2 separate regions of the Homo sapiens genome follow, and region 2 is linked to region 1. Evidence: fine-mapped expression QTL. Tissue or cell type: whole blood. Region 1 holds a variant in brackets; the other region holds the start of a gene. All regions are shown on one strand. Distances are from middle to middle.

Region 1 (2,756 bases):
TGCTGCACTGAGGGCTTCATTTTACTAAAAACCTTCCTTGAGTTTCTTTGCTCCTCAGGCAAGGAGATGCCAGAGCAGCCTGGAAGCTACCTCTCCTCTACTAACCATACTGCCCTAGGAGGTATAGGGTGGAGCATAAGGCCTCTAAGCTCCTTGGGGGCACACTGTTTTCTTGAGCCCCCACCAAACCCGCAGTTGCAGGCATCCCTACTTCCCACTTCACTGCAGAGCCCAGGACCTGCATTGCTGAGAACAGCAACAGTGAGAGGCAGTTCATCACCTCCCTGGAGGCCTCCTAGGTTCACAGAAGAAACAGCAGGCATTGAAGTGGGAGAAGGAGGATGAGACCTGGGCCAAGTGTAGATGGAGAATGACTCCAGTGGGAGAAGACTGAGGGAAGCAGACAGTGTGAGGAGAAGGTGGGTGGCGAGAGCTGAGCAGAAGGTTGCTCTTCATTCATTCAACCAATTGGGTTTTTTTTTTGAAACAAAGTCTCTCGCTCTGTCGCTCAGGCTGGAGTGCAGTGGTGCAATCCCAGCTCACTGCAACCTCCACCTCCCGGCTTCCAGCGATTCTCCTGCCTCAGCCTCCTGAGTAGCTGGGATTACATGCACCCACCACCATGCCCAACTAATTTTTGTATTTTTAGTAGAGAGAGGATTTCACCATGTTGGCCAGGCTGGTCTCGAACTCCTGACCTCAGGTGATCTTCCTGCCTCGGCCTCCTAAAGTGCTGGGATTATAGGTGTGGGCCACCACACCTGGCCAATCAATTGTTTTTAACCACCTACTGTGTCCGGAATTGGTGGGTTCTTGGTCTCACTAACTTCAAGAATGAAGCCACGGACCCTTGCCGTGAGTGTTACAGCTCTTAAGGTGGTGCGTCTGGAGTTTGTTCCTTCTGACGTTCGGATGTGTTCAGTTTCTTCCTTCTGGTGGGTTCGTGGTCTCCTTGGCTCAGGAGTGAAGCTGCAGACCTTCACGGTGAGAGTTACAGCTCTTAAGGTAGTGCGTCGGGAGTTGTTGGTTCCTCTCGGTGGGCTCCTAGTCTTGCTAGCGTCAAGACTAGAAGCTG[T/C]AGACCTTTGCGGTGAGCGTTACAGCTCATAAAAGGAGTGGGGACCTAAAGAGTAAGCAGCAGCAAGATTTATTGCCAAGAGCGAGATAACAAGACCTCCCCAATACCACAGGGGATCCTAGCAGGTTGCCGCTGCTGGCTCCGCAACCTGCTTTTATTCTCTTATCTGGCCCCACCCACATCCTGTTGATTGGTAGAGCTGAGTGGTCTGTTTTGACAGGGCGCTGATTGGTGTGTTTACAATCCCTGAGCTAGACACAAAGGTTCTCCACGTCCCCACCAGATTAGTTAGATACAGAGTATCGACACAAAGGTTCTCCAAGGCCCCACCAGAGTAGCTAGATACAGAGTGTGGATTGGTGCACTCACAAATGCTGAGCTAGACACAGGGTGCTGATTGGTGTGTTTACAAACCTTGAGCTAGATACAGAGTGCCCATTGGTGTATTTACAATCCCTGAGCTGGACATAAAGGTTCTCCACGTCTCCACCAGACTCAGGAGCCCAGCTGGCTTCACTCAGTGGATCCCGCATTGGGGCTGCATGGTGGAGCTGCTTGCCAGTCCTGCGCCCTGCGCCCGCACTCCTCAGCCCTTGGGTGGTCGATGGGACTGGGCGCCGTGGAGCAGGGAGCGGCGCTCGTCGGGGAGGCTCTGGCGGCACAGGAGCCCACGGCGTGGCTGGGGAGGCTCAGGCATGGCGGGCTGCAGGTCCGGAGCCCTGCCCCGCGGGGAGGCAGTTAAAGCCGGGCGAGAAATCGAGCGCAGCGCCAGTGGGCCGGCACTGCTGGGGGACCCAGCACACCCTCTGCAGCCGCTGGTCGGGGTGTTAAGCCCCTCATTGCCCGGGGCTGGTAGGGTCGGCCGGCTACTCCGAGTGCGGACCCGCCAAGCCCACACCCACCCGGAACTCGTACTGGCCCGCAAGCACCGCGCACAGCCCCGGTTCCCACCCACGCCTCTCCCTCCACACCTCCCTGCAAGCTGAGGGAGCCGGCTCCGGCCTTGGCCAGCCCAAAAAGGGGCTCCCGCAGTGCAGCGGTGGGCTGAAGGGCTCCTCAAGTGCCGCCAAAGCGGGAGCCCAGGCAGAGGAGGCGCGGAGAGCGAACGAGGGCTGTGAGGACTACCAGCACGCTGTCACCTCTCACTACCATGTCCTCAGCACTGTTCTAAGGCCTGAGGATACAATGGTGAACAAACCAAACATCCTGCTTTAATGGAGCAGGATGGGAATAATGACGATAATCATAATGGTTAATACTTTTTGAGTATTTACTATGGAGTCAAGCATTTATCCTACCCTCACAACAATCTCAGATATTTGATACTATTATTAACTTACTTTATAGATGGTTACACAGAGTTAGAGCAGGGTCCATCTCCATTGTGACTGACCTCAGTGCCTCTCAGCCTCATTATTTTGTAAATTTATTTTTTTTTAAATTTTATTTGTTTTTTGAGACAGAATCTCGCTCTGTCACCCAGGCTGGAGTGCAGTGGCACGATCTCAGCTCAGTGCAATTTCCGCCTCCTGGCTTCAAATGACTCTCCTGACTCAGCTTGCCGAATAACTGAATTACAGGCTCCTGCCACCACGCCTGGCTAATTTTTGTATTTAAAAAATTGGCCATTGGCGGCCGGGCACTGTGGCTCATGCGTGTAATCCCAGCACTTTGGGAGGCC
Region 2 (2,500 bases), 73 kb after region 1:
CAATTCTCCTGCCTCAGCCTCCCGAGTAGCTGGGATTACAGGCATGCGTCACCACACCCGGCTAGTTTTGTATTTTTAGTAGTGATGGTTTTCACCATTTTGGTCATGCTGGTCTCGAACTCCTGACTCAGGTGATCCTCCCGTCTTGGCCTCCCAAAGTGCTGGGATGGCAGGCGTGAGCCACCGCGCCCCGCAAGATACTAAATTTTAAAACACATCTTGCTGAGGCCAGACAAAAAAAGCCCCACACACTAAACTAGCCAGGCACGGTGGTGTGCGCCTCTGGTTTCATCCATTCTGATTGCAGCACAACAGCACTCCAGCCTGCGCAACAGAGAGCGGCCCTGTTTCTAAAAATAACAAAACAAAACAAAAAACACCACACACATCTTGCTGAAAAACGTATCAGAAACTGCTAGAGTTAGTGCAAGTTTATACTTGAAAATACTCAAAGATATCAACGATCACCTCTCCCTCAGGCTGAAACTGCCTTTTGTGCTCAACTTTGCTAGAAGTTTGGTCTGGGAAACAGCTGACAAGCTTAGAGCTTAGATCTCTTTTGACTAGCAAGGAACCCAACTGACATTCGAAAGTGAATTGACAGCATCGAGTTGCCACTGAAAATTAAAGGAGGCAGGAAATAGAACGTTATGAACTGAAAGGAATTGGAGAATAGTCCACACCCCTCATTTGATAAAATATCAAGGGTACCAGAGATGAAGTGACTTGTCCAAGATTAGAGAATTGTGTCTGAGTCTTAAAAGCTAAACCTCTACAAAGATGTGCATTTGACCAAAACGCTAAAATCACACCCCCAAATCACTCCCCACAAGAGGAAGTCTTAAAACGCTTCAAGAAGTTAATCTGCAAAGGCTTCCCTCTTAAATAACAGGATGAGAGCGTTTCATAATTTGTAAATTAAGCCAATGCAAAAGGGCGCTTATTATTTTGAGAACCAAGCAATTTGGCAAATACTCTCAGACTAACTTTACTCCCGTGGAGAAACTGGTGATCATGGATCAGGGAAATCAACGGGGGTCTAGGGAGGAGAGGCTGCAGATCGCCCAGGTATCAGGGAAGACAAGCTCGGCGCGTCCGACAGCGTGAAAAGAGTTGACAGGACTACTCATATACCCGACTAGCTTCCGCTTCTTTGTTTTCCCGCTTTTTTGTATCCCCCAGCAAGGAGAGTTTCCCACAGCCCGGATTTCCCGACTGAAGGCTCCCACTCTCCCTAGATCCTCCATGAAAAAGAAGAGGCTCGACCCCGCACCTCCTCGCCGCAGAGCCGTTCGTATACAGCCTCCAGCTCCTGCAGCTCTGTCAGGGAGCGAATGAGCTCAGCGGAGATTTCGGAGCAGCGGCCACCTCCCACCCCCTCAGACGGCTGCTGCACCCCTGACAGCTTCGGAGGCGAATCAAGGTCCGCCATCTTGGTCCCCATTCGGCACTTCCGGTCCCGCGAGGCCCCCTCTTCGTTGGCGCCTATTTGGGGCTGCCCACAGAAGTGCCCAATGAACTCTAATGGTTTTTTTTTTTTAAAGTCTACTTCTAAAAACGTATTAATTTTCTATTCTCCTGGAAAAAGCAAAGCAATAAAGCATGTTTAAATAATTTGTAATGCCGTGTGGAAGCAAGACGGAAGCATTTTTTAAAAATTATATATATTCTTCAGGCGCGGATTGGGTGCCTTTTTCCGCCGCGCGCCACCAGAATGTCCCTGTCTTGAGGTCTAATGGCGGACGCCAGTATGTTGGAGTTGGTGGTGGCTTAAGTTTTGAAGGGAGGTAGCATCCGTTGGATATCCACACCATCCTTCTCGCTGCAGGGTAAAAAAACAGCCTGGAGACTTCCCCGGGCCCGGGGAGGCGGAGACCGGCCATATGGAAGGGGGACCCGAGACTTTGGCGGGGGTCACGGGCAGTCTAGGCCCGAGAGGCTGGGGACCAGGAGGAGGTACCGAGGGATGGTTGAGGCGCCAAAACGGCTTCCTGCAGTTATCTCTCGCTTCCATCCACAGTGTGGGAACATATTCTATCTCAAAATAGGGCTCGTGGAGATTGCTTTTAACTTCTGGGGACTCTGAGACGGGGGAGGTGTGACAAGCAGCGGGAGGCATGGATGTCTCCCTCTGGGTAGAGTAAATGGTACACCGAGGGGAAGATAGAAAGATGGAGCGTGTTAAAAGCGTAAATAACGGAAACAGTCTTTAGAGCCAAGACTCCGGTTTGAATTTGTATTTTGGTAGTTGGGCAACTTGTCTCCTCCTCTGAACCTCTATTTTCTCGTTTGCGTAATGGAGGACAGAGTTTAAATGCGATGATGTTTCCTTGGAGGATGGAGAAGATGCAGTGAGCAATCATACAAGCTTTTTGTAATAATGGTAAACAGACGTGGGGGAAGTTTTTTTTGTTTTGTTTTGTTTTGTTTTTGTGACGGAGTCACAGTCTGTCGCCCAGACTGGAGAGCAGTGGCGCGATCTCGGCTCACTGCCATCTCT

Evidence for each region. PIP is the estimated chance that this variant, and not a neighbour inherited with it, causes the effect.
Region 2: COG4 starts here. The variant in region 1 is fine-mapped to the expression of COG4 in whole blood (GTEx, PIP above 0.99). The same link has a PIP of 0.9 or more in breast, lymphoblastoid cells, thyroid and transverse colon.

What each region holds. Positions count from the first base shown.
Region 1 is chr16:70,449,141-70,451,896 of GRCh38, forward strand. No RefSeq gene overlaps it. Among named protein-coding and RNA genes, the nearest start is that of FCSK, 4.1 kb to the right of the region's middle. The variant T/C (reference allele first, on the strand shown) is at 1,076.
Region 2 is chr16:70,522,100-70,524,599 of GRCh38, forward strand. It overlaps COG4 (component of oligomeric golgi complex 4), which reads right to left and starts at 1,455. Exons shown (of 19, transcript NM_015386.3): 1 at 1,274-1,455. The coding sequence starts at 1,444. SF3B3 (splicing factor 3b subunit 3) reads left to right here and starts at 1,717. Exons shown (of 26, transcript NM_012426.5): 1 at 1,717-1,829. RefSeq lists enhancers at 1,088-1,227, 2,261-2,500.